7 linked regions of the Homo sapiens genome follow. The protein of the gene in region 7 purifies or fractionates together with the protein of the main gene of each other region. This does not show direct contact. Each region holds a gene or a part of one and is shown on either strand. Other genes may lie near its edges.

The links.
Region 1: the proteins of SAR1B (region 7) and CALU purify together in Homo sapiens (affinity purification with mass spectrometry; one large-scale study listed by BioGRID and IntAct). This does not show direct contact.
Region 2: the proteins of SAR1B (region 7) and BZW2 purify together in Homo sapiens (affinity purification with mass spectrometry; one large-scale study listed by BioGRID and IntAct). This does not show direct contact.
Region 3: the proteins of SAR1B (region 7) and NPEPPS purify together in Homo sapiens (affinity purification with mass spectrometry; one large-scale study listed by BioGRID and IntAct). This does not show direct contact.
Region 4: the proteins of SAR1B (region 7) and PGAM1 purify together in Homo sapiens (affinity purification with mass spectrometry; one large-scale study listed by BioGRID and IntAct). This does not show direct contact.
Region 5: the proteins of SAR1B (region 7) and EIF4H purify together in Homo sapiens (affinity purification with mass spectrometry; one large-scale study listed by BioGRID and IntAct). This does not show direct contact.
Region 6: the proteins of SAR1B (region 7) and MPI purify together in Homo sapiens (affinity purification with mass spectrometry; one large-scale study listed by BioGRID and IntAct). This does not show direct contact.

The regions. Positions count from the first base shown.
Region 1 is NC_000007.14:128,766,078-128,770,358, reverse strand, and holds part of CALU (calumenin isoform a precursor), read right to left. Parts: intron 2,904-4,281; coding exon 2,704-2,903; intron 1,297-2,703; coding exon 1,192-1,296; 3' UTR 1-1,191. UniProt on the Homo sapiens protein: Involved in regulation of vitamin K-dependent carboxylation of multiple N-terminal glutamate residues. Seems to inhibit gamma-carboxylase GGCX. Binds 7 calcium ions with a low affinity.
Region 2 is NC_000007.14:16,690,696-16,694,976, forward strand, and holds part of BZW2 (eIF5-mimic protein 1), read left to right. Parts: intron 1-4,138; coding exon 4,139-4,281. UniProt on the Homo sapiens protein: Translation initiation regulator which represses non-AUG initiated translation and repeat-associated non-AUG (RAN) initiated translation by acting as a competitive inhibitor of eukaryotic translation initiation factor 5 (EIF5) function.
Region 3 is NC_000017.11:47,620,161-47,623,776, forward strand, and holds the end of NPEPPS (puromycin-sensitive aminopeptidase), read left to right. Parts: intron 1-1,366; exon of another isoform or gene 1,367-1,607; coding exon 1,608-1,760; 3' UTR 1,761-3,116; downstream 3,117-3,616. UniProt on the Homo sapiens protein: Aminopeptidase with broad substrate specificity for several peptides. Involved in proteolytic events essential for cell growth and viability. May act as regulator of neuropeptide activity.
Region 4 is NC_000010.11:97,428,866-97,432,023, forward strand, and holds part of PGAM1 (phosphoglycerate mutase 1), read left to right. Parts: intron 1-1,513; coding exon 1,514-1,788; intron 1,789-2,089; coding exon 2,090-2,270; intron 2,271-3,158. UniProt on the Homo sapiens protein: Catalyzes the interconversion of 2-phosphoglycerate and 3-phosphoglyceratea crucial step in glycolysis, by using 2,3-bisphosphoglycerate. Also catalyzes the interconversion of (2R)-2,3-bisphosphoglycerate and (2R)-3-phospho-glyceroyl phosphate.
Region 5 is NC_000007.14:74,187,075-74,191,355, forward strand, and holds part of EIF4H (eukaryotic translation initiation factor 4H), read left to right. Parts: intron 1-536; coding exon 537-724; intron 725-2,598; coding exon 2,599-2,663; intron 2,664-2,747; coding exon 2,748-2,844; intron 2,845-3,172; coding exon 3,173-3,232; intron 3,233-4,123; exon of another isoform or gene 4,124-4,220; intron 4,221-4,281. UniProt on the Homo sapiens protein: Stimulates the RNA helicase activity of EIF4A in the translation initiation complex. Binds weakly mRNA.
Region 6 is NC_000015.10:74,892,500-74,896,780, forward strand, and holds part of MPI (mannose-6-phosphate isomerase), read left to right. Parts: intron 1-161; coding exon 162-303; intron 304-638; coding exon 639-821; intron 822-3,652; coding exon 3,653-3,826; intron 3,827-4,281. UniProt on the Homo sapiens protein: Isomerase that catalyzes the interconversion of fructose-6-P and mannose-6-P and has a critical role in the supply of D-mannose derivatives required for many eukaryotic glycosylation reactions.
Region 7 is NC_000005.10:134,608,271-134,612,551, forward strand, and holds part of SAR1B (small COPII coat GTPase SAR1B), read right to left. Parts: intron 1,405-4,281; coding exon 1,301-1,404; intron 234-1,300; coding exon 102-233; intron 1-101. UniProt on the Homo sapiens protein: Small GTPase that cycles between an active GTP-bound and an inactive GDP-bound state and mainly functions in vesicle-mediated endoplasmic reticulum (ER) to Golgi transport.

The sequences.
Region 1 (4,281 bases), on a different chromosome or scaffold from region 7:
GGAAATCAGCCCACAAGATAAGAACACTGCAACCAAACTCATAACTAATACTGCTAATTTAACTATTGTCCAAAAGAGAAAGGGAAGAAGAAAAAAATCCCCACTCTACTGGGAGGTTCTAGGCTTTCCTATAAGTTATCCAAATAGTCTTTTTTTAATCTCAGGGTTTCTTAAGAGAATTCCCATTCAGTGACCATTTCTTTCGTTAAAGGCACTTTCAATGACATGATTGGAAAGGAGTGAATTTTAATTGTAGTGAAACCAAGATTAATTCCTTGGCACACCTGGGAAGAAGAGGAACCGGATGGGGGCATTTACAGTGATTTCAAAAGGCAAATAATTAAGTCTTGAGCATTTCAACAGATGCACACCCAGAAAAAAAATGTATGCCCCGAAAACACTTGTATTTTTCCTTTAGTTTTCCAGCTGTTTCTATCTATAGCTCTGCAAAGAGATCACATTCACTACTTGATTGATTTTCAAGACACTGGCCCTAACTCTTCCCACCACAGCTGTGCTTGACAAAATTAGCCAACAGTCAGTCCTACAGGGGGAAAAAGAAGAAAATCAATTTGGGCCAAGCTTTCCTAGAGCAAAGGGATCTTTCCTTGCCCAGGTAATGGCAGGTTCAGTTGCTGGACCTATAGCAACTGAATGTAATATGTGGCCCCTACTACCTATGAAATGTTGGACTTTTTGACAGGCAAGACTAAGTGTTCTCTCTCTAAATATAAATTGTGGAGCATATATTTTTTTTCTTTCCTCTCTCCTGAACATTTCTTATTGATCTCAGGCTTACAAAATTAGTTAAGTGAGAATTATTAAAATCATAAAAGGGGTTGAGAAAGAGTAAAGAGCTAATGTTTGTCTACATGTGTGAGTTGAGGATCTTGATCCTTCATATCATACTCCCAACCAGAGAAAAATACAAAAATAAACACGCCATGTTAATACATAATACAAAGTGTAAATCTACAAACACAAGTGTACTAATTAGAGTTGTTCCTCAGAAGCACGGCTTCCCTCCAGTCCCTCAGAGAGGAGGAGGAATGGGGACGGGATGGTTTTCATTACGCCTTTTCATGTCTTAAAAAGTTTGTAGTAACAGTCTCAGTAGCGCAAACAATTTCATGTGAAACCAGAAGCTGTAAAAATAAATTACTTTTGAGGAAATGAGGGTTCCTCCGTAGCTCAGAACTCATCATGCCGTACTAAGGCCTCCCCAAAATCTGTGGCCTGGCTGCCAACAAATAAGTCATACTTGTCAACGATCTCCTCCTTGGTAAGCTTGCCATCCTGAAAGTAGAGATAGCAATGAATTGAAGAAGAACATATTTCCCATTAAAAATTCAGAAACACTGTTATAGAAGAATTGGGGTTAATCAGAAGTTAAGATTCTCATTTCTACTAAATTAAGTGTGAACTACTCAGCCCTCATTCCCCCTACATACATACGAAGAGGGAAGAAAACAGCAATTACACATTCCTTGTTTTTTTTTTTTTTTTTTTTTGAGACGGAGTTTCGCTCTTGTTGCCCAGGCTGGAGTGCAATGGCGCGATCTCAGCTCACCGCAACCTCCGCCTCCCGTGTTAAAGTGATTTAAGTGATTTTTCTGCCTCAGCCTCCCGAGTAGCTGGGATTACAGGCATGCGCCACCACGCCCAGGTAATTTTGTATTTTTAGTAGAGATGGGGTTTCTCCATGTTTGTCAGGCTGGTCTTGAACACCCAATCTCAGGTGATCCGCCTGCCTTGGCCTCCCAAAGTGCTGGGATTACAGGCGTGAGCCATCGTGCCAGGCCAATTAAACATTTCTTTTATCAAGAAAGTTAAAAGTGGAAGGGTGGAAAGAATATAACACAACAACTCAATGCTAGAGATAAAGGTTTGTTTCATGAGGAGAAAACTCTCCTTTTAGAGGAAAATATGGAACATCTCCTAGATAGGGATGACTACATGCATTTCCTTTTCTCATACATCTCAGGACACAACACCTGGCTACTAAAGTGACTTTGAGCAAGAACTTAAAGCAGATCAACACTTAAAAAGGCTCTAAAATAAAAAACTGAATTTGAAATTGAAGATTAGCTTAGACAAAAATATACTCAGAACACTGAAAATCTCCATCTTTAGACCGATTTTCAGCTTACTCCAAGCAGGGCAGGAGTAATCTCTGAAGCAGGTGACTGGGCTTAGGGACAACAATACTTTTAACAAAATACCTCAGATAATTAATTGATCAAGGACAATTTGAACAGGCTCCAGAGAAAAGCTGATTTATAGCCCATACAAAGGACCCAATTTAAAAAAGCCTATTTGATTTAAGAAGGAAACAACCAGCTTTGAGTAGACAGAATGGGCCTGTAATAGGTAAAGGAACAAATGAAGTAACAAAGAAAAAAAAAAATTCCTGGGGATCTAAAAATACCTGATGATGCATGCTGGGCACAGGCTACACACAAAGGCTCTTTTCTGAAGCCAAATTTCCTACAATGCTATCAGCACTGGGCAAAAGGATTTCTAAAATGAGATCAGATAGCTAGTGCTGCCCTGAAAGGTTTTAATCGCCAGATTCAGATACTTGGCTGACTTAGACTAATTAAGACCTTAAATGCTCTATGCACCTTAACAGAAACTGTTCAGGTGATCCCCTAGAAGCATACTTCAATCAAGGATAGAGCGTGTGGGCCTCGCCAGACTTACCTTGTTTTGGTCTGATTCATAGACCAGGTGCCTGGCTTCTGCCTCTGCATGATCATAGTCTGAGGGAAGGATCCAGTCTTTGGTCTCTTCCTTGTCCATCTTCCCATCACGGTTCTTATCCCGAAACTCAACAAACTGCTCTCGCTCTGTCTTTACCCATTCTGGCTCATCAGTATTCCCATCATGGCTGTACATGTCACCTGGGTACACAGACATACATACAAAAGAAGGGTTTGTCTTTTCCCCAAAACTGCCTCATGCTAATCTGGCCTAACCCTTTTTCCTCATCCATTTGTTTGGAACCCAACAGCAGCTACAAGGGTATTTTAGGCCAGACAGACCTTAGAAAGCAAGGTATTTTCCTGAGGCTTAATCACTTATCTTGCAACAAGAATATTTCCAGCTGCTGATTTTAAGTCACATGAGAGCAAAGAGTTCTTATACCTTAATAAATGCAGAAATAAGAGGAGAGAGCTACCATCAAGAAAGACTTAGACTCGTTCCCTACATTTCATTTCACCCTAAGGTAGCTAATTAAACGGGACCACTTGTTTTAGAAAGGTGTAGCCAATTACTACAAAGAGTCCATTATACCAGTGGCCTTCAGTTGGGACAAGCACGCCCCTGGGGAAACAGGAACACTGTCAAGGAGTACACTGAGAAAGGTCAGTCAAGAGAGAATCAAATTCCAGATACTCAGTTCCACATATAGATTTTTCCAAAAATTGATCTTCATAAGAATGTACCTCTGGCCATCAAGGCTTTTTTCCCATCTCCCCCCTTTCACAACTGCCCTTGTCCCACTTTATAAAAGAAAGGCATATTTTCAACCATTTTGAAACTAGAGTGTAAAAAGCTCCAAGATAATGAAAAAGAAACAATTAGAAATACTAGTGTCTGGATGGGCGTGGTGGCTCACACCTGTAATTCCAGCACTTTGGGAGGCCTAGGCAGGCAGATCACCTGAGGTCGGAGTTTGAGACCAGATCACCTGAGGTCAGGAATTTGAGACCAGCCTGGCCAAAATGGCAAAACCCCATCTCTACTAAAAATACAAAAATTAGCTGAGCATGGTGGTGCGTGCCTGTAATCCCAGCTACTCGAGAGGCTGAGGCAAAAGAATCACTTGAACCCAGGAGGCAGAGGTTGCAGTGAGCCGAGATCATATCACTGCACTCTAGCCTGGGCGACAGAGCAAGACTCCGTCTCAAAAAAAAAAAAAAAAAAAAAGAAAAAGAAATACTAGTGTCAGTCTTGAGAATGCAAATGCCTGAAAAAAAATGAATAAATTCGTTTGCATGTCAAAAGGTTTTAAATTCTTTGCTTTAAAAAAAAAAACCTTGAAAAATGGCCTAATTGAGTTTTAGCTAAGGGATCATTAAACATAATTTTTGGGCTGGGTGCAGTGGCTCATGCCTGTAATCCCAGCACTTTGGGAGGCTGAGGCGGGTGGATCACTTGAGGTCAGGAGTTTGAGACCAGCATGGCCAACATGGTGAAACCCCGTCTCTACTAAAAATAAAAAATAAAATTAGCCGGGCGTGCTGGCCCACACCTGTAATCTCCAGCTACTGGGGA
Region 2 (4,281 bases), on a different chromosome or scaffold from region 7:
AGAAATTAAACAAGTTAATTGTGTCACAATTGCTTGATTATATTTTTATTTCTCCATCTTTGTGTTTTTCTAAGAAAATCCAGAAAAATATTTTGTTCTTGTAATTTCTATCTGCTCCCTACAATTTCTTTCTTCTTGATGCAGCAGCTGTGAAATGCCAAGATTTCTCCAGGTGGAATTGCTTTTACAGTTCTAGGATGAAGTGTAAAAATAAGACACAGCGCTGCCATCTCTTCACCTGGCCTGTTCTCTGTTGTTCTCTTCCAATGTGTTTCAGTGTGCAAGGGTCCAGTCCCATGAGATAATTCTAAGACTATCTCTTTTCCTCAAGAACACATGAAAGTAATTTTAAATGTAAATACTTGCAATTTAAATCACTTAAGAATACTTTGTTTCTTGAAGTTTACCTTAAATAGATTTGTGTGTTTAAAGTTTTTAGATTATGGTAAAAAAGGTACAGAAGTCTAGATTCTAGTTCATAATAATTTTCATTCCTCATGTTTCCTGAATGTCTACCCTGTGCTGGGCATGGTACCACAAGCTGCAGAGCCAGTAGAGAACAGGATAGAAAAGTTGCCTGCCCTCGTGAAACCTACTTTCTAGTGGACTTAGGGCAAATCCCTGTAAACAGAAGCAAAAGTCACAGAAGATAAGTGAATAGGTTGCTGAGGAAGGTGGAGGTTCATATGAAGGGAACATATTTCTTGTCCATGAGGCTGTGGGTTGTCTATAGATTAGCTCTATCTTGGCTAAGCCTGGCTTAGTTCCACATGCCTTTTCATTCGGGCACAGGCTGAGGGAGCAGCTCCCATCTGGGCCATTCTGTCTTCATGGCAAAGTACCAGAACACAGAGACTGAACTGAACGTCTCAAGTACCTTAAAAACTCACCTATGGACGCTGCCATGCCTGGCAATAGATTGGGAAAATCCAATCCACTAATAGGCTGCTTCTCCACCTCTGCAGATAGACATAGCAAGGAGGGGGTTCTCTTAATACTCTTTTGAAGAAGAGAAGGTGTATGATTGGGAACAAAGATACAATCTATCCGGTTATTTCTTAAAGCAGTAATTTTCTTAAAGATATTCACAACTATAGCCTGGTTAGCTTAATTAGATGGCTTCATTTATAAAATTCATTTTCTTTTTGGAAACACATGTCATTTAGCTGTTTTTACTAGGTTCTGTGTGTGTGTGTGTGTGTGTGTGTACATATGTGTGTGTTTGTGTATATATATGGAACATAGGTGGTGGTTTCTGCGAGAAACATATAAACTGGGTGAGAACAGCGTAGTTGCCTATGCACTATGCCTGCCTGATATTTGTTGAATCAACAAAAGAATGAGGAACTAGTGAGTCAGTTCCACTCTTTAGGAGGAAATTTTGTTTTATGAACATATACAACAAAATTCTCTTTAACTGTGAACTACTACATTTTAGGAAAAGTTGTGTATTACTAGACTTTAGCTATCACCCACTATTACAATACAGAAGAAAGAGCAATTTATAGCAACTCAGAGAGGTGAGGGGATGGGAGAAGCCAACCCTTATTACTGACAAAGAGAATAGTGATTAAGAAATCAAAGATATTGATCTCTTCCATTATTTATTCAATAAGTATGTATCGATTATATTATATGCCAGAAACTTCCAAGAGATGGGGAGATTGAAAGGAACCAAACCAACAGACCCTTTCCTTCATGAAGCTTATATTCTATTTCAGGAGAGTGGGCCATAAACTAAAAACCGTAAAATATGTATTATAATAAAGGTAAAAATTAAGTAGGGGCCAGGTGTGGTAGCTCACACCTGTAATCCCAGCACCTCAGGAGGCTGAGGCAGGTGGATATCTTGAGATCAGGAGTTCAAGACCAGCGTGACCAACATGGTGAAACCTTGTCTATACTAAAAATACAAAAAATTAGCCGGGCGTGATGGTGCACACCTGTAATCTCAGTTACTCGGGAGGCTGAGGCAGGAGAATTGCTTGAACCCGGGAGGTGGAGGCTGCAGTGAGCTAAGATCACGCCACTTCACTCCGGCCTGGGTGACAGAGCAAGACTCCGTCTCAAAACAAAACAAAACAAAATTAAGTAGGAAAGAGTTAAAGAGCTTCCAAATGTGGGCTGTAACTTTCAGTGGTGGAAAGCCCTCTGTGATAAGATGACATTGGTGTAAAGACTTGAGGGAGGTGTGGAGTGAACTGTTTAAATATCTCCACATAGAGCATTCCAGGCAAAGGGAATGGGAAATGGGAAGGCCTTGGGGCATGGGATATTGGGGACCGCAAGGGGAGAGCAGGTGAGAGCAAAAGTGTAGATAAGCTCAGAGAAGTAGCAAGGCCCATATCATCTAGGGCTTTGGCTTGTATTCCAAATAAGATAGAAAACTTTTGGAAATTCTCTGCAGAATGGTGTGTAATGTGATTTTGACTCTCAACAGGATCACTCTTGCTGTCACTTTGGGAATAGACTCAGGAGCAAGAGCAAAAGCAGAGAGACCTTAATCTAGGGATGAGATGATACAGATTTGTACCACGGTATGGTTTCTCTAAAAAAATACAAACCATGTTCCAAGTCAAAAAATGACATGGTATGATTTAGACGGGCTTCCCCTCAACTTAATCTGAATAATGATTTTCAATGTATTATATACTATTCATAAGAATTTGGAATGTAGTTCATAAGTGAACTACGAGTGATATGTTTAATGGCATATTGCTCTGAACATAACTTTAAATCAAACTTTGCAGTCACACTCTTCCTAAATAGAATATTGAATGCTAGCACAGAGTAATGGAATAAGTATTGACTTGGGGGCACACAGCTCTGTTCTTAAATATTTTTGGTGGCATAAATTGGGTCAAGCTGCTTAACCTTGTTGAAACTTGGTTTACCGTCTAGAAAAATGTCTGCTTTACACAGTTATTATGAGGAAAGTGCCAGTACATTTTGATTCATAGAAGAAACTCAATAAAAATACATTAGTTCCCTTCCCTGCAGATTTGGAAGATGTGGAGCAGTAGAGGAAATATCAGTGACGCAGTTTCAGTGTGGTATAAAATGTTTGCTTTATTATGAATGCGTGTTTGATAGCTGCTCCCACCAGCTCTCTTCTGACATTTTTGAAACATATGACTCAACAGGGGAAATTAATAGGATGATAGAACATTGAAATTTGAATCCTGACATAGGAGCCCTCCAGCTGTGTTCCTATAGGTGGTGGCAAACCCATTGCAGATCTACTGAGGCTCTTTCTGGAACCACATAGCCATTGGCCATATATATGCAAGTCTAACCAATACAAAAGCTTGGATATATTTTTTAGACCCTGCAGCAGTCTGAAAAATGTGAGAACTTTGAAAATCATCTTAATTTCATAGATGGGAGTTGAACTCACCCAGGATTAGATCATGACTAAGTGTTACTGAGATTCTGCCAAACTGTGTAGGGTAAAATGGAAATGAGGTGAAAATATGAGAGCAGCTATGGTATATTGCTCTTTTTGAAAATTTCCATCAGAATTATGTAATAAACTAGAGTTGGTAGGGTAGGTGTCTTAGACCTTTTCTATTACTTATAACAGAATACCTGAAACTGGGTTATTTATACAGAAAAGGAACTTATTTCTTAACAGTTATGGAGGCTAAGTCCCATGTCAAGGGGCTGCATCTGGTGAGGGCCTTCTTGCTGGTGGGGACTCTGCAGTGTCCCAGGAAGGCTCAGAGTATCACATGGCGAGGGGGCTGAGTGTGCTAGCTCAGGTCTCCCCTCCTCTTTTTTAAAGCCACCAGGTCCCCTCCCAACATAACCCACTAATCCATGAATGGATTAATCCATTCATGAGGGCAGAGCCCTTATAATCCAGTAACTCTTTAAAAGCCTCATCTCTCAGTATTGCCACAGTAGGGTCCAAGTTTATCTCAATTGCTTACCCTTTTTTTCTTTTTCTTTGTGAAACTGCCTGATTTCAGAAGATGTTTAGCTCAGTAAATATACCAGAGATTTGTTGTTTTGTAAAACAGTCTTTATTCTTTTCTTCCAAATGTGAGATATTCTAAGTGAAATGAAGACTTTTGTCCTTTATGCTTGCTGAAATTTGAATGGCTTGTTTTATAGCAGTCTTTTTTCCCTTTTTCAGGAACTCTTTCCAGTTAACAGACAGAGTGTGGATCATTTTGCTAAATACTTCACTGACGCAGGTCTTAAGGAGCTTTCCGACTTCCTCCGAGTCCAGCAGTCCCTGGGCACCAGGAAGGAACTGCAGAAGGAGCTCCAGGAGCG
Region 3 (3,616 bases), on a different chromosome or scaffold from region 7:
CTGAGATCGTGCCATTGCACTCCAGCCTGGGTGACAGAGCGAGACTCCTGTCTCAAAAAAAAAAAAAAAAAAAAAAGTCCTAAAAATGGAAAGCCTTCGAATGGTTTATAAACAAGGCAGTGCCTTGATCTGATTTGTGTTATAAAAATTTCAGTCTGGCTGCAATGTGGATAATAGTTTGGAATGGGGAAGAGAAGATGTTGGGAAGCTAACTCTCCTAGCAAGAATGATAGAATAGCTTACAGTAGGGTAGTGGCAGTAGTGGAGGAGATGGAATAATGGAGATTCAGGGGCTTGAATTTGTTAACCATTTAGTTCAACAATATTTATTGATTGGCTTCTCTGTTGTGAGCATATCTGGGAGAGGAAGAAAAACAAGCCAGGATAATCCCCAGGTTTCTGGTGTATAAATGTTGGTACTACTCTGCGATGGAATGGAAAAAGACTTGAGGCCCTGAGAACTGAACCATGATTAGGAGCCTTGGAACAGTAGCAATTGTCATCTGTGTAAATAAGGTTATTGATTTCTAAAAGGTCTATGTTTAATCAGATGGATTAGTCATTCTGTCTTTCACACCTGTGGTGACTAATTCAAAGGAAAAGCCCTATCATTTTGCCAGCTGGTGTTTAAGAGTTGCTTTGTTTTCTGTGAAACCAGGTGTACTGCATTAGAAAAGTTTATTCAACTTTTAATCATTAAGCATTGTGATAAATTGTAAACTTAGAAATTGTTTGGTTTACTGTATTAAAAATGTTGGATTCCTGTAATTCCAGCATTTTGGGAGGCTGAGGTGGGAGGATTGCTTGAGTTCAAGAGTTCAAGACCAGTCTGGGCAACATGGTAGGACCCCATCTCTACAAAAAGGAAAAAACAATTTGGCCTGGGAGTGCACGCTTGTGGTCCCAGCTACCCAGGAAGTTAAGGTGGGAGGTTTACTTGAGCCCAGAAGGTTGAGGCTGTGATGAGCCATGATCGTTTCATTGCACTCTAGCCTGGGCAACAGAGTGAGACCCTGTCTCAAAAAAAAAAAAAAAAAAAAGACCATGGGGTGTTAAATTATTAGGGCATAGCAGCAATTTAAACTTCTTTGTATTATCATCCCTTACAAATTAATCTTTATTTGAAGCAGCCAAAATGTGTTGAATCCTTAAGTACTCTGTGCTAGGTATTTTGTCAAATGTTTATATGGATTGTCTCTTTAATCTTCTGGAGTAGATATTTTCTCATAGTTGAGAAAACTGAGACTTAGAGCAGTTAATTTTCTCACAGTCACAAGCTAGTACATGACTAAGCCTGGATTCAGGTTCCAAGTCTTCATTCCAAAGACTATATTTACCACTACACAATTAGCCTAAAAGAAAGGCAGTAGGTTCTGTCTCTTTATTAACTTTTGATTAGGTTGTTAAGCATATAATTAAGGGGAGAATTCCTATATGCAGGTCCAAGGAGTTGCTTGTTTTCTTTTAGCCTGAGGGTGGCAGTGGTAAATTCTCATGCCTGAAGATTATGCATCCTTCATATAGACCAGTGGGTATTTTTTCATAACCTGTAATATTAACTTCTTATTGCTAGTAATGATCCTGCATTCTGGGTTGTTTTATACCAGGCTTTCTTCGAGAGTCACCCAGCTCCTTCAGCTGAGCGTACCATCCAGCAGTGTTGTGAAAATATTCTGCTGAATGCTGCCTGGCTAAAGCGAGATGCTGAGAGCATCCACCAGTACCTCCTTCAGCGGAAGGCCTCACCACCCACAGTGTGAATCCTGAGGTGCCGCCATTGGCGGTTCTGCTGCTTCGCTGCAGGGATAAGGTGGAGCTACCGAACAGCTGATTCATATGCCAAGAATTTGGAGTCTTCTTTCAAACCAGTGGGGGTTGGACAATGAATGTAGTTAACTGGTTCCTGCTCACACTCCAGAATTAAATTCTATTGAAAAAGGAAAATCAGCAATTCAGCAAAAAATAAATAAAAAATAAAAATGTAAATATGATAGTAATAAAATAGAGCATAACGAAACTGTGAAACTTTCTGAAGCCTTGTCAGTGGTTAAAAGTATTTAACACTCTACTGTTAATGACAGATGTTCTGTTTTTATAACCTACCAAAAGGAAACTAGAGGCTTCTTGGTGAAGAGCATTTTTGTGAAGTGGGTTCTGCAAGGAGCCTATAAAGCCAAGGGTGGTGTCCATTTCTGGGAATGGTTAAACACAAAAGGCTGATAGCTGGTATCACATAGTTGGAGTCAGTGCATAATTCCAAGTGGCTTTTTTTTTTTTTGGCACGGGGACTGATCAGGAAGATATATTCCTGCATAACTCAATCTGAACCAAGGATTGTAGTTTAGTTTTCCTCCTTGCCTTCCCTTCTGTGTGACCGACCCCTTGGCCAAAAAAAAACAAAAAGCAAAAAACAAAAACCTACCCTGTTCTGGTTTTTTTCCTCCCTTTAGTTCCACCCCCAACCCCCATTCCCTGGTGTCCTTCTTAGAGATGAAGAAATAATAAGGAAACATCTTTCATAGCCACATTAAATAAGAGAAACTGATATACATTATTTTTTTCTTTTTAAAGATGACTTATAAGAACCCTGAAATTTATATAGGTGAGACAATAGAAATAAAAAGATCTTCAGCCAGGCCTTTCTGAAGGAGTTATTCTGCTAAAAATGGTCTTAGTTGTCTGAAAAGCCAGCTCTTGAACCTCTTCACAACAGTATCAACACTGGCTTCTCCCGGTTCATTTTATGCGTGCGAGAAGTCAGTGGTAACTGCTGCAGGGCTTAATACATTAGTGGTAACTGGTTTAAAAAACAAAGACTGTAAGCCTGTGTGTGCCACTGTTTGCTTCAACAGTATATCCTAATAAGCCTCACCTATTTAATCCAATGAGTTTTAAATCTAAATCTCATTCCCTTCTTCTTTCCCTACCTTTTTTTTCTTTTTTTCTTAAAAAAATATTTTGTGTTATTAACAGAAATTCATATTTGGTGTGGCTTAACGGTATTTCAGAAGGTCATCAGATTGTGAGACTGCTTCCTTGAAACATTTTTGTGCTATTGTTTTAAAAAAATAATTAAAAAACAGTTGGCGTTAATAAAAATGTCAATGTGAAACTGATGTCCTGATTCACTTTATTCTCTTTCTTTGATAAGAAACTAAAAACTTTCCTATCATTCAGTAGGCTTATGCAAAGTTATACTATCATAGGATTTTTCAAATTCAAAAAAAATCCAGTTCCTTAATTCCTAATTTATAGATCTTAACAGAAAAATCCTGAGATTCATTCTAAATCAGTTCTACATTCTCAAAACTCTCTCAGAGACTCTTATAGTCAGCATTCAGGAATGAACTTGAGACTTCCTCAGTCCCTAGTTTTGAGGCACCCTAGTTCAGGCACCATGCTCAGGGCTGCCCTTAGGCTCTCAAATGTTCTTAAGGCACCAGTGAAGCAGGGGCACCAAAAAGACTGAGAAAAATGCAGGTTTAATTGAAGAACTCAGAATTTTGCAATCAGAAATTCTGGAAACAGGTTATTTTACTTTCAGCATACATGTGATTTTTGTCTGTAATAATAGTTAAGTAGTTTGAATTACGTTCAGGGAGAGGTTATACTAGAT
Region 4 (3,158 bases), on a different chromosome or scaffold from region 7:
ATTTGAATGACTGGCAGAAAAATTCACTTCATGTTTTATTAATTACTGTTGCTAACCCCAATATGAAGCAATATCCAGGCAAGTTTGTGCTGAATTTCTAAGAGGGCCTTCTAGCCTAATGGAGAAAAACAGGAATGTTTTCTTGGTCATCAAGGAAAGGGCTATCTCCCCATTATGGTGGGAGGGTGAATAATCTTTAATGAAACAAAATCAATAAGACTGATTCCTTTTTTTTTTTTTTTTTTTTTTTTTGCGTGCGACAGAGTCTCGCTCTATCGCCCAGACTGGAGTGCAGTGGCGCGATCTCAGCTCACTGCAAGCTCCGCCTCCCGGATTCACGCCATTCTCCTGCCTCAGCCTCCTGAGTAGCTGGGACTACAGGCGCCCGCCACCATGCCCGGCTAATTTTTTTGTATTTTTAGTAGAGACGGGGTTTCACCATGTTAGCCACGATGGTCTCAATCTCCTGACCTTGTGATCTGCCCACCTCGGCCTCCCAAAGTGCTGGGATTACAGACGTGAGCCACCGTGCCGGGCCAAGACTGATTTCTTGGAACCTATTCATTGGGCCAACATAACTCTTGCCACAATAACTACTGTGTATGGAAGACAGATTCATTGATGAATCAGATAGTGCACAGCACTGGGTCTTTCTTTAGTGAGTGGCTTCTCCTAAACTTGGTTTAACATTTAAGTAGGTATACTCTGAGGGTACTTGGTATTAGGCTGGAACTTTGTGACTACAGTAGAGAGAAACCATGGATTAGAGTTTGTGATGTGATTTCCATACTCCACAGTGAATACAATTTCATACAATGGACAAATACAATTGCAAACAAATACAAAAACAAAATAAAATTTCATACAACAAACTGAAGTTTTATCAGTACAGGAAGAGCTCTTCCTGTGTCCTGATTGGGATTTAAATCCTAATTTTCTTACTTCAGAGTTCTAGTAAAATATCTTTTATAAGTGACAATTCCCAGTCTGGGCAACATGGTGAAACCTTGTCTCTACTAAAAATACAAAAATTAGCTGGATATGGTGGCGTGCGCCTGTATCCTCAGCTTACTTGGGAGGCTGAGGAGAAGAATTGCTTGAACCCGGGAGGCGGAGGTTGCAGTGAGCCGAGACCACGCCACTGCACTCCAGCCTGGGTGACAGTGAGACTCCGTCTCAAAAAAAAAAAAAAAAAAAGAAAAGAAAAAGTGACAGTTCTAACTGAAATGCAAACATCAGGATCCTTGGGAATTAGGAAAATGGGGATAGCTAGAGATGGTGGTGAAAAGTTGGATTCTGGAGTCCCACAGCATGGGTTTTAATCTAGGTTTTAACCCACATAATAGCTGTGACCTTGGATAGAGTGCAAGGATAAACAAAACAGTTGGCCAAATATTTTCTTTTTTGGCCAAATATTGTCATTTGGACTACTTGTACAGGAGATTGATACTGAAGAACATTTTGGCTCAGAGTAGACCTGGTTAGCTTATCACTTTGAACTTCTGATTTCCAGATGCTGGCTATGAGTTTGACATCTGCTTCACCTCAGTGCAGAAGAGAGCGATCCGGACCCTCTGGACAGTGCTAGATGCCATTGATCAGATGTGGCTGCCAGTGGTGAGGACTTGGCGCCTCAATGAGCGGCACTATGGGGGTCTAACCGGTCTCAATAAAGCAGAAACTGCTGCAAAGCATGGTGAGGCCCAGGTGAAGATCTGGAGGCGCTCCTATGATGTCCCACCACCTCCGATGGAGCCCGACCATCCTTTCTACAGCAACATCAGTAAGGTATGGACAAACAGAGGTTTGGTCACTCCGCCCAGGATCAGGGGCTTTTAGTAGTGTCTGCCTAATCTCACTGAACTTACAATTCATGATAAAATAGTTAATTGTAATCCTTCCTTCTCCAGTGAATGACCTTCACTTACTAGAAGATATGGTTGATAGTTTACTATCTCCTTTTTTGTGTTTCCATAGTCAGATTTTATAAAACCCTGTGAATGTGAATGGGCCAAAATCGATACATCATGAAGTCTTTTAACAGATGTAACTCTTAATAAGTGGTGAACTTGGATTCTTTATTGCTTAGGATCGCAGGTATGCAGACCTCACAGAAGATCAGCTACCCTCCTGTGAGAGTCTGAAGGATACTATTGCCAGAGCTCTGCCCTTCTGGAATGAAGAAATAGTTCCCCAGATCAAGGAGGGGAAACGTGTACTGATTGCAGCCCATGGCAACAGCCTCCGGGGCATTGTCAAGCATCTGGAGGGTATGTATGTTTTTTCAGAGGCGCCCTCAAGGAAGGATAAAGCAGAACTGCCACAAATCAGGGACTTGGTAAAAAGGAGTCTAGGGAAGGGCTGGACATGTTAACAGCTTTAGAGATGGTCTAGATTGACTTCTAGTGAAAAAACACCCTCAACCCTTGTTTCTCAAAATGTGATCTGCAGAATAGTGACAGCTGGACCCCCTGGGAGCTTGTTATACATGCAGAACCTCAGGTCTCACTCCAGACCTGTTTCAGAATCGGCATCTATTCCCCAGGTGATTTGGATACACATTAAAGATTGAGAAGCTCACCTCTAGATTGGTATTGTCAAATGAAACTGCTAGTGAAAATCCTCCTTAGCTTGCCAAGCACAGTGGCTCATGCCTGTAATTGCAACATTTTGGGAGGCCAAGGCAGGAGGACCACTTGAGGCCAGGAGTTTGAGACAGCCTGGGCAACATAGTAAGACTGCATCTCTACAAAATTTTAAAAGGCCAAGCACAGTGGTTCATGCCTGTACTATCAGCACCTTGGGAGGCCAGGAGTTCAAAACCAGCCTGAGCAACAAAGCAAGACCTTGTCTGTACAAAAGAAAAATGAAAAATTAGCTTGATGTGGTGATGCTCATCTGTAGTCCCAGCTACTCAGGAGGCTGAGGCGGGAGATCGCTTGAGCCCAGCAGTTTGAGGTTATAGTGAGGTATGATTGTGCCACTACATTCTAGCCTGGGTGAGAGAGTAAGACCTTGTCTCTTAAAAAAAAAAAAAAGGAAAACAAATATATATAAAAGAAAAAATTCTCCTTAGTCACAACCAGGCACAACTTTACACATGAATCTCAATTTGCATCTTCATCCCCGAGGGCCTAGAGGCCCACGTGTGCTGATTT
Region 5 (4,281 bases), on a different chromosome or scaffold from region 7:
TGTAAATACTGCAGATACAGATTCTGAGTGAATAGGAGAGAAGCAGTTGTCTTAGGAAGGTGTGTTACGTTTGGGCTGGGCATGGTGGCTCACACCTGTAATCCCAGCACTTTGGGAGGGTGAGGCAGGCAGACCACCTGAGGTCAGAAGTTGGAGACCAGCCTGGCCAACATGGTGAAACCCTGTTTCTACTAAAAATGCACAAATTAGCCAGGTGTGGTGGCACATGCCTGTAATCTCAGCATCCTTAGGAGGCTGAGACAGGAGAATCTCTTGAACCCGGGAAGCAGAGGTTCCAGTGAGCCAAGATTGTGCCACTGCACTCCAGCCTGGGTGACAGAGTGACAGTCTGTCTCAAAAAATTTTTCTTTTCCTTTTTTTTTGTTTCTCCAGCCATTCTCTGTAACAGTCTTGTGGTACATCGAGCAGAGTGCCTCACCTGGGGCGCTGGCGGCGTAGCTCAGCGGAAGACCGCTTTACTTGTTTTGCTTATTCCACTCTGGGCACACTTGAATCCTGTTTGTCTCCCCTCCTAGGTCCCGCGGCAGTGCTGGTGGCCATGGTTCCCGTAGCCAGAAGGAGTTGCCCACAGAGCCCCCCTACACAGCATACGTAGGAAATCTACCTTTCAATACGGTTCAGGGCGACATAGATGCTATCTTTAAGGATCTCAGCATAAGGAGTGTACGGCTAGTCAGAGACAAAGACACAGATAAATTTAAAGGTGAGTTTGGGGGATTCTTATTGTATATTACTGTAAAGTGTAGGGGAGGATGGGAAGGGGTTCTAAATAAAAATAGATTTGTGAACCAGAGGCTGTAATCAAGAAAGTGTTTTAAACATTTGCCTGGTCTAAGTGGCCGAAAGAAACATAACTCTTCAACTCATAGGTCTTCAGTTCACTTAGGGGAAAATGTTTTGTACACAGTGTAGTTCATAGAAATACATGGCATATGCCCAGGTTTGTGAGCCTGACCTCTACAGCAGTCCTGTCTGCCAGTAAAGGAGTTCCCCAGGAGAGAGAGGAATAGAGCCGAGGACTCTTAGGCACATTCCTCCTGGAATGACTCGTAGATTTTCCTTGGTAGTTAATCCAGTAATCATATGGTACTGTCATCCAGTAATCATAAAACCCAGAAGAGAAGCAGCCAGTGCTGTCAGTATGCATTTGTAAATTTGGAGAGTGTGCTTGGGAGGGCTGGCTGAGATTTCAGATATGGTGTCTATAGGTCGTGTGTCTGCAGGGTGCGGGAGCAAAGAGCAGGAAGAAGAAGGGATCCGAGCAGCATTCTCCTGCCTGCAGGGCTTCCTGAAGGAAGTGTGCCTGCTGTGTAAGTGCACGATGCTAGGACCCAGGATGTTTGGCCCGCATAATCCACCCAAAAGCACATCTGTGACAAGTATGGGGTAACTTGGGGCGGGGAGCTGTGCCAGCAGTCGAGAAGGCCTTGCTGACCTGGGTGGTTTTGTGTGTCGGTGGCACTCTTACTCTTTTTGACTTCAGAATCTGAAGCCACATGTAGTGTGTAATCAAACAGTGAAAACAAATATATCAGTTACACTTGTGAAGTAAGCTCCAGGAAGCATTAGGAACTAAACTTTGGGTTGGAGTGTGTGGGTGAGCCTAGCCTTTGGGCTGGGTCAGTCGCTGCAGGCTTTGGAGTTTGGCTCATGAAGGACCATCTTCATTTGAGCAGCTCTAGAAGATGAGATTGGGTGTCTGTTGCTTCTGTGAAGTTGGGGGTAGTTTTCTCCATTATTCTCAACATTGAATCCACTTAGGGAGGAAACCTGGGGGGACATCCCTCCAGCCAAGGCAGTATGTTCTTAACACACAGTTGGTAAACAGGGAAAGTTTGGACTCAGGCCTTTAGAGCACTTGCGGTCTAGTGGGCTTCAAAGATGAAGTGTGATTATTAAGTTATTATACACAGGGCAAGGACGCTGGGGGAGAGGGGATGCAGGGTGTAGTGCCAGCATCTGGGGAGTAATGAACTAGATTTAGACTCCAGACAGCAAGGAAGGGGCAATGTCAGACCCCTGGCATCAGGGACACAGGTTGTCAGTAACAGGTACTTGGACCCAGGCTGCCTGTCTTTTAATTAACATTCAGAGAAGAATGCCCTGATTGCCAAGGATATATTTTCAGCTTTGTGAAGCAAATTTTATGTCAGTTACCTGAGTAGTAAGTTAAATCGGCACTTTAAGCCTCTTTCTTCAGAGCATTTTAGGTACCAAGTTTGAAATCTACGAAATCTAATCCTCACTTAGATTAAATAGTCATTCAGAAGTCAGAAGAGCTCTGCAGATGGCCTGAGAAAGGTTTGAATATTATGGTTAAAACATTCAAGAAGAAAGCTTTCTAGAAACGCAGCTGCTATTTCAGTGCATGTTCAGTTAGCATTTTCTGACTGATAAAATAGAATTGAGAGGGAGGAATGCCAGTCAGGGTTCTATCTATTGAAAGGCTCTCCTAGTCTGCCATCATCTAGACAACAGAATGGTAGTTGTGACGTGGAGAAGTAGTATGAATAGGATCTTCCCACATCTTTAACCCAGAATTACTTGAGGAAATCGGGGTCTTCTTTTCTTTTCCAGGATTCTGCTATGTAGAATTCGATGAAGTGGATTCCCTTAAGGAAGCCTTGACATACGATGGTGCAGTAAGTATCCTCGGGTTTTCTCTGTCATAGCAGTTGAGATTGTTTTCTTTGCCAATACTTACACTATTTTCCCTTTATCATTAGCTGTTGGGCGATCGGTCACTTCGTGTGGACATTGCAGAAGGCAGAAAACAAGATAAAGGTGGCTTTGGATTCAGAAAAGGTGGACCAGATGACAGAGGTGATTGGTTCTTCTAAAGCTGAACATCATAAAGATTTGCAGTATGCCTACCAATTCCAACTCGTGAACGTTCCTAGTAGAACTCGATTATCTCATAGGTGTGATAGGTTCTCGTGAGCTCTTAAAAGTTTGCGTAAAATCCTAGAAAGAATGGCTGATGCTTCTGCAAGCCTGGCGTTTTTTGTTTTCTGTTGGAAGCAAAAGCTCTTAAAATGATTTCATTGAACCTTCCATCACTTGAGTTGTATGTCTTCCAAATGAATTTTTCCATGTTTGCGCAGCAAGGTAATGACACGACCTCAACTTTATCTTTTTTGTGTATCCTCAGGAATGGGTAGCTCTCGAGAATCTAGAGGTGGATGGGATTCCCGGGATGACTTCAATTCTGGTATCAGTATTTAAAGTATCACCACTTAATTTTTCCTAGGAGCCTTGCTGCTGTTCTCTGTTTCTTACGAGTAGCCCGCCTGGCCGGACTACTTATTTAGTTCCTTTAACAAATACAACTCTCCTGCAGGGTGCCCAGGCATGCAAGTAAGCCTCTGTTAGAGCCTGTGGGGGCAGGACTTGAGCCCCATGCACCTTGTGTGGTCACCTTTGTTAGCCTGCAGCTCCTTGGATGTGTACGGGCCTGGGTCCTTGAGCTCGCTCAGCAGTCTTTCTCAGACTCTAGCCCAGGGAAACTCCTCTGTGGTTTTGTGTATGGCACCAAGAGAAGTACTGTTCCTTCTGGAAAACATAGGATAGAGGTTTGGGTTCTTACATGGTGAAAGGTAGTCCTGATGGCCCTTTTTTTTCTTGGAGGATTGTGGGGAGGTCCAGTCCCTTGATGGTGGACCTGATGCACTTCGCCGTTCTCTTTCTTAGCCAACCCAGGCAGAGCAGCTGGTGGTATAGCACAAAGCATCAGTCCACACGCCAGGCCTCTGCCCTGCAGGGTGATTTTAAGCATTTTTATCATCTTTACTTTCTGTTTTTAAATTACAAAAGTATAATTTTTTATATATGCACATGATAAAAACTTCAGTTGTAACCCAGAAAGGTAGGAAGAGAAAAACAAATTTGTTTTCTTTCCCGCAAACTTGGGATGTGCTGTCAATGCTGTGCTGTATAGAACGTCAGCACCCTCCCCCCATCAAAACAAAACCGGTGTAAAGTAGTGGGTGAGTATGGGAGGGACTGGTGCACGCTGTCTTGTGAGTCTGAGATTTTTAAAAACTCAGCTTTGGCTGAACAGGTGACGACTACCTGTTGAATAATATAGTTCTTAAAAGTCCTGTAGCCAGTCAGAAATGAGCTTATTCATAAAAGTGCAGTATGGTGAAGTCAATCTGTAATTTTATGTATAAGCTAGTCTCTGATTGAAACATGCAGCAGCTGTCTTCTTAGAGCCAACCAGCAGCTCAGGGAACGGCCTTTCCCCTGCCAGTTTGGTAT
Region 6 (4,281 bases), on a different chromosome or scaffold from region 7:
GTTTCTGCAACATGCTTTGACTGGGCTCCTTGCCAGAGGTAGGTAGTCACTGCCATCCTGCAACTGGGGAGGGTGGACAGCAGGGGCTAGGTGGCACTGGTGTACCTGCTAGGTAATGGCTGTACCCTCACCATCCTCCTCTTCCCCTGGCCACCCCACAGGAGCTGGCAGAGAAGCTGCACCTCCAGGCTCCGCAGCACTACCCCGATGCCAACCACAAGCCAGAGATGGCCATTGCCCTCACCCCCTTCCAGGGCTTGTGTGGCTTCCGGCCAGTTGAGGAGATTGTAACCTTTCTAAAGAGTAAGTTGGGCAGAATGCTGAAGGCATGCGTACTGGGCCAGGGATACCTGGGGAACCAAGATGATAGGAACAGTGGCTGAGAACGGGTCACATGTCACAGGAACTGAAGGGCCTCATGAAGCAGTTTTTGGAGCCAGTGAGCCAGGCCAGTGAGACCAGGCTCAGGTGTGGTAGTCAAGGGCTGGTGGTGAGTGATTGGTTTCCACTGCAAAGTTTACTTAGCATTGCCGGCTCTTTGGTTAGGGCTGGGATGGAAAGGTGTCCTCCAACTCCCCACTTGTGTGGGTTCCATCTTACCATTCCTGATATGGGCCCTGGGCCTTGCCTTCCTGTAGAGGTGCCTGAGTTTCAGTTCCTGATTGGAGATGAGGCAGCAACACACCTGAAGCAGACCATGAGCCATGACTCCCAGGCTGTGGCCTCCTCTCTGCAGAGCTGTTTCTCCCACCTGATGAAGAGTGAGAAGAAGGTGGTGGTGGAACAGCTCAACCTGTTGGTGAAGCGGATCTCCCAGCAAGGTGGACACAGTTATATTCCTGGTTGGGTGCAATGCTCTGGCCTGGGCTTCCCAGCAGACACCAGACTCTGGGGACAGTTCTCAACCCCCTTGCCCAAGTGGAACACTAAAAGGGGCCCCACTTAGATGACCTGTTGGCAACTTAGCATTGCTTGCCTAGTCTTTGTGGAGCAGGGCCCTTCTTAGTTGAGTGCTGCTTCCCAACTGGTCATCTTCTCCAGATGGTTGGAGGCAGACTGGCATAGAGGACTCTTAGGATGCCTTCCACCTAGGCATTCTGAGATTTTCCCTAGCCCTGCAGCTGCCCTCCATGGATGGACTTGTATCTCGGGGCTAAAGAGGCAGGAAGGGGACACGAGCATCCTCCCTCTCCTGGAAAGGACTGATGCCTCCAGCACTCAGTCATTTGATCTTTCCTTTACCTTCTGTGTGCCCAACCTTGTGCTAAGAAGAGTTCAGGAAATGACTGTGATGGGTGTGGTCACTGTCACCCTAAAGGTGGGGAGTCAACACAAGCAGTAAGAAACCCAAAACAGAACAGACTCCCAGCAATGAGCTTATGTGGTGCAGGCGATGAGGTCTCAGCTTCTTAGCCTGGCAGCCACAACCCCTTCTCTAGGTGGCCCAGAGCTCTCTTTTTATTTTACCTCTACAGGTTTCCCATTACCTTTGAGCCTTAGGGCATTATTTATTTGACCCAAGCATATTTTTTTCTGTTCAGTGTGTGTGTGTGTGTGTGTGTGTGTGTGTGTGTGTGTGTGTGTGTGTGTGTGTGTGTGTGTGTGTGTGGTCTCTTTCTGTTGCCCCAGGCTGGAGTGCAGTGGTGCGATCTTGGCTCACTGCAGCCTCTGCCTCCCGGGTTCAAGCAATTCTCCTGCTTCAGCCTCCTGAGTAGCTGGGATTACAGGCATGTGCCACCACATCTGGTTAAGTTTTTATATTTTAGTAGAGACGGAGTTTCACCATGTTGCCTAGGCGGGTCTCGAACTCCTGAGCTCAGGCAATTCACCTGCCTCAGCCTCCCAAAGTGCTAGGATTACAGGTGTGAGCCACCACGCCAGGCCCCTTGCCTCACTTTAAAGAAGCCTGGCTGGGCACGGTGGCTCACACCTGTAATCCTAACACTTTGGGAGGTTGAGGCGGCCGTATCACTTGAGGTCAGGAATTCAAGACCAGCCTGGCCAACATGGTGGAACCCCATCTCTACTAAAGATACAAAAATTAGCCAGGCGAGGCAGAGGTTGTGGTGAGCCTAGATCATGCCACTGCACTTCAGCCGGGGCAATAGAGTGAGACTCTGTCTCAAAAAAAAAAAAAAAATGCTGGGCATGGTGGTGTGTGCCTGTAATCCCAGCTACTCAGGAGGCTGAGGCGCAAGAATCACTTGAACCCAGGAGGTGGAGGTTGCAGTGAGTCTAGATTGCACCACTGCACTTCAGCCTGGGAGACAGAGCAAGACTCCGATTCGGAAAAAAAAAAAAGAAAAAGAAAAAGAAAAAAAATTTAAAAATTAAAGAAGTCCACCCTTGCCACTCTACCCAGGCTGAGCTCATTTTCCCTTGTCGTTTCCAGGACACATTTTGGCCCTCAGCGCATTCTGCCTCATGCTCTCTGGAGCAGACCGAGAGAGATTCTCTGAGACATAGAACTTTCTTTTTTTTTTTTGAGACGGAGTCTCGCTGTGTCACCCAGGCTGGAGTGCAGTGGTGCAATCTCGATCACTGCAACCTCCGCCTCCCGGGTTCAAGCGATTCTCCTGTCTCAGCCTCCCGAGTAGCTGGGATTACAGGCACGTGCCACCACACCTGGCTTTTTTTTTTTTTTTTTTTGTATTTTTAGTAGAGATGGGGTTTCACCATGTTGGTCAAACTGGTCTCGAACTCCTGACCTCGTGATCCGCCTGCCTTGGCCTCCCAAAGTCCTGAGATGACAGGTGTGAGCCACCGCGCCCAGCTGAGACACAGAACTTTCAGTGCTAAAAACTAGAAAGTCGCCGGGTGCGGTGGCTCACACCTGTATTCCCAGCACTTTGGGAGGCCTAGGTGGGAGGATCCCTTGAGTTCAGGAGTTCGAGACCAGCCTGGGCAATATAGCGACCCCCTCTCTCTGCAAATAATAAAAAACTTAGCCGGGCATGGTGGCATGCACGTGTGGTTCTCGCTACTCAGGAGGCTGAGGTAGGAGGATTGCTTGGTCCTGGACAGTTGAGGCTGCAGTGAGGTATGATCGTGCCACTGCACTCCAGCCTGGGTGACAGCGAGACCCCGTCTCAAAAAAAAAAAAGGGAAAGCTCGGGCATGTTGGTTACCCTTCATGAAACTCTTTTGCGTTATCTCCCTAGATTTTGAGCTCCAAGGGCAGTGGTTCTCATACAGGGGACATTTGGCTGTTGTCTGGAGCCATTTTTTGATTGTCAAAACCCAGATAGGGGTTGCTAGTGGCATCTTGTGGGTGGAGGCCAGGGAAGCTGCTACACATCCATCAGTACACAGGACAGCCCCCACAATAAAGAATTACCTAGCCCAAATGTCAGTAGCGCCAAGGCTGAGAAATCCCATCCTGAAAGGACCATACTCTAGCTCTTTTAGTGGCTAGTATAGTCCTGGGCATATGAATAGTCAAGATATGATGAAAGATGGTATTTGTATGGACTGGAGTATCAAGCAAGGCTCGACCCCCAAAGGGCTGGAGGCGTGGCCAGAAGGACAGGGCCACTTTGGCTTCTGGATTCCTGTGGCAGGGACCTTTTCCTAGGACTCCCTGGCCAATGTGGGGCTATGAACAGCACTGAGTATCCCCCTAAGTGACCTTGGGGTGCTCTGTGACCCTCAGCGGCTGCCGGAAACAACATGGAGGACATCTTTGGGGAGCTTTTGCTACAGCTGCACCAGCAGTACCCAGGTGATATCGGCTGCTTTGCCATCTACTTCCTGAACCTGCTTACCCTGAAGCCTGGGGAGGCCATGTTTCTGGAGGCCAACGTACCCCATGCCTACCTGAAAGGAGGTGAGCCACATTTCAGCAGTGAGCCCCACTGCCATCCCTGCTGGGCCCTGTTTCCCTATCTGGACAAAGGAAGGAGAAGGGTGGTCAAGGAGACCCCCAAGGACCTTGCAGCTCTGACCTCTGAGGGTTCCTGGGCTCAGCAAGCAACAGCTGGTAGGGATGATGAATGCATTTAGCATTGAACACGCCTTGAATCCTGACACCAACCCTGTGATGCCATGCTACTCTGATTTTAAGTCCTGCCAGTCAGTGTGGGAACCACAATTTGAACGCAGGCTATATTGGATCAAAGCTGTTGTTCTGTCACAGCCTTTGTATGTCTGTCCTACCTACCAGGGATTTTTACACTAAAATATGCATGTTGCCATGGAAGGATGCCACCTTTCGACTGTTGGCTGCTTATCCACACATGCCTCATGCACAGGATTCTGGGGTAGAAGTGGGAGACTACAGAG
Region 7 (4,281 bases):
GAAAATGATAATGGGCTTGTATAGTTGGACAATAGTAATTTAAGAAGACATTTGTACTGTAGAATTAAACACACCCATCATAATTTTTTTTTTTTTTTTACCTTTCCTGTTGTCTGACCATATAAACCAAACATCTCTCGCAACCTCTCTTCACTGATGGCTTCAGGTCTGTCGATCTTATTCCCAAGAATCAGTATAGGCACATTAGCAATGGTTTCATCTGTCATTAGTGACTGAAAAAAACAAAACAATACAAAACAAGAGTTGATATGAAACCATCCAAAGAGCTTATTTTGATATGATAAAACAATAAAGGACTCATTTTCTACCATATCATGTCATACCAACGTTCTTTGTCAAACTTTCCCCACATTTTAAAGTGACCTCAATGAAACCATAAGCTAAATTCTTCTGTCTTCCTAAGGCTCTTCCTGTAAATGTTTACTCTGCTCATCCTTTAAAGGAGTGACATAGAACGTATAGAGCCAGCACCTTAGAAGTGAACAGATGTGGTTTCACTTCTGGCTCTACTGCTTTTGAGATGTGACTTTGGGCAAGTTAGCCTGACTGAAGCTCTAGAGAGAATTAGGAACAGTAGCATCCACCCTATGAAATTGAGAATTAAATCAAGTAATACGCACAGTCTCTGGAACAAAGTAGGAACTCAGGCATTCTCTGTCCTTGTTTTGTAACCATAGAACCTACCTGGACTTTTCCACACGTACAAGTATTTGTTTGCCTGCTCTGGGCAGAGCCATGGTATGATCAACCTTCAATCAAATCATGGACCTGCTTACTCTGTGGCCCCAGATCTGGTGCTGACCTTGCCTGCTGCTGTTGGGCCCCTTTACAAAATATCTGACCTGGGATACTGGAGGGGAGGTAGCTACATATGCCTCTGCTCACTCCTGGGAGTAGTGTCAAAGATGGCATGTCCTATCATTTCCAGGCTGTGGCTTAAGATATAGCATCTTAGCATGACCAGGGACTCAAGATCAACCCACTCCAGGAATATAACAGACATGAAATATACTAAAAGGGTACATTCTGTACAGGGTGAGCTTCTTAAGTCTTCATAAAAGATGTCTGTGTTAGTACTTCCTCAATAGCTACAATTACTCAGTTACTCCCTCTGCATTCTAAGTAATCACTACTTAAAGCAATCACTGAGCTCAACAAATTGCCAAGAGTTTCATCAGAGACTGCAGAAAAGCTGCACTCTGATACCTGTATCTCTGACCTACTTCTGCAGGCTTACCAGAGTGATTTGACTATATTTAGTTTCAGTTATTTAACTTACATCAAGTTCTTCTTTTGACTCTAACAGCCTTTCGTGGTCTGCACAATCCACCAGAAATACAATGCCATTGATAGCAGGAAGGTAGTTTTTCCACACTCTTCGAGCTAACAAAAACAATCAGGGGTTAGAGTTTACTTGTTGGTCAAACCCAGCAGATGGTTTAAGCAAAGAGTCCAACCAGATATCAAGTGCGGTAATCCCTTAGCTGCTGGTACTTCACAATATATTCAAGTTAATCTTTTACCCAGTGGTGCCAAATTCTTCTGAGAATAACTAAGAGGGAATTTCAGGCTTTCCTTGACTGTGGGCAAGTCAAATACTTTAGTCTCTTCCAATTATCATATGTAAGGAGTAGAATATTTAAAATAAAAATAAAAATAAAAAAAAATACACGTTAAGTTCATTGGAGGACTGCTACTAGATCTAAAATATAAGCAGTAAAAAAACTACATATATGTGATTATATATACATAAAATGTGTGTATTTATATTACATATATATGCAGTGTTCATTTTTTGACATTTCTAGTTATCAGATTTTTTTTGCCAGTGATAAATTTGGAATGAGTGACAGAAGGAAATTAATATCAGGTACAAGCTTGTTAAAATAATAAGGCCGGGTGTGGTGGCTCACACTTGTAATCCCAGCACTTTGGAAGGCCAAGGCAGGTGGATTGCTTGAGCTCAGGAGTTCAAGACCAGCCTGGACAACATAGTGAAACCTCATCTCTACAAAAAAACACAAAAAATTAGCCAAGCCGGACACAGTGGCTCATGCCTGTAATCCCAGCACTTTGGGAGGCTGAGGCAGGTGGATCACCTGAGGTCAGGAGTTGGAGACCAACCTGGCCAACATAGTGAAACCCTGTGTCTCTACTAAAAATACAAAAATTAGCCAGGCTTGGAGAATCACCTGAACCCGGGAGGTGGAGGTGGCAGTGAGCCGAGATCATGCCACTGCACTCCAGCCTGGGTGACAGAGAGAGACTCCGTCTCAAAAAAAAAAAAAAAAAAAAAAAAAAATTAGAAAGTGTGGTGGTGTGTGCCTGCCCAGCTACTTGGGAGGCTGAGGTGGGAGGATGGAGCCCAGGAGGCAGAGGCTGCAGTAAGCCAAGATCATGCCACTGCACTCCAGCCTGGGAGACAGAACCAGACTCTGTTTCAAAAAAAATAATTAAAAAAAAACCAAAACAAAATTGTTTTACTCAGAAAAGAAGCTCAAATGTTAATAATTAACTGAAGTCTATGAAATCATAAGAGTAATTTTTTCCATAACATAACTTTCTTCACTGACTTGAGTTTTATGACATACCTTTTTTTTTTTTTTTTAAAGAGACAGGGTCTTGCTCTGTCATCCAGGCTAGTTCACTGCAACCTCAGACTCTTGAGCTCAAGTCATAGTCCCATCTCAGCCTCCTGAGTAGGTAGGACTATCAGTGTCTATCACTATGCCCCATTAATTGTTAAATTCTGTGTAGAGACAGGGTCTTGCTATGTTGCAAGGCTGGTCTTGAACTCCTGGCTTCAAGTGATCCTCCCAACCTCAGCCTCTCAAAGCACTGGGATTATAGGCCTGAGACCCCACACCCAGCCATTATGACATATCTTGAAACAACATAGAAATGAAGTCTCAGACAAATTCCATTAGATTCCAATTCTAATCATCGTATTCCAGAAATTATTTTGTGTATATGCCAGACAATTACATGTCTCAAATGTGCTTTCACTAGCCAGAACCATTTACAATCTTTTCAACTATATGTCGCATCAGGTTTTTAGAATGCCCACCAATTCGGTAATATTGGTTAGTTATGACTTACTATGAGGTAGATGTTGCCAAGTACTTTTGGGGATATAAAAAATGAACAGGCCAGGTGTGGTGGCTCACACCTGTAATCCCAGCACTTTGGGAAATTGAGGTAGGAGGATTGCTTGAGGCCAGGACTTCAAAATCAGCCTGGGCAAGATTGTGAGACCCCATCTCTACAAAAAAAATTTTTTTTAATTAAAACAAAACAAAAAACAGGATTTTAGTCCCCGCAAGTTTAATATAAGAGATAAGGCAGTCTTTCCAAACTTGTTGTAGACATGTACACAAATATACTAAGTGCTATGAAGTATAGCTGAGAGCACTCCAACTGAGAATGGCTTCCCAAGGGAGGTAGCAGGGCATACGCTGGGGCCTAAAGGGGTTACTCATGTGCGGATGGGGATGGCATGAACAAAAGCACAGAGGAAAACACCAAGAAGGTCTGATTTGGTTGAAGCAAAAAGAACGGGAAGGGGAATAGAGGGAAATAAAAGAAAAGTAGGCCAGATGTGGTGGCTCACACCTATAATCCCAACTTTTGGGAGACTGAGATGAGAGGATTGCTTGAGCCCAGGAGTTGGAGACAAGCCTGGGCAACATAGTGAGTGAGACCCTGTCTCTATAAGATAATTTTTAAAAGCCCAGAAAAGTAAACTGGGACCAGATCATAGAGATCCTGAATGCCAGGTTAATGAGTTTGGCCTTTATTTTGTAAGTAATGAGTTAGCCACTGAAGGTTTTTTTGTTTTGTTTTGTTTTGTTTTTGTTTTACAGAGCAGTAACATGTTCAAAACATGATTATGACAGTGAGAGGTAGATTGAAGTAGAGAGAATGGAAGTTAATTTTACTCATACACTTTACCACCAAAAGCAATTCTCATTTGAATTGGCCAGAAGTATCATGAAAATCACCCTTTGCTTTTAAAGTATTTATCGGGGAGTAATAATCCCTAAATTTTAAATCTACTCTGGCCTTGCGTGACTAGAATGAGATTTCATGCACTAGAACTAATGGCCACATTTTTGTTAAGTTAAAATAAAACAAAGTGACTGTAAGAGTAAGAGAATCTTACCTTGAACGTGGCGAAATCCCATCTCTACTAAGAATACAAAAATCAGCTGGGCGCGGTGGCACATGCCTGTAATCCCAGCTATTGGGGAGGCTGAGGCA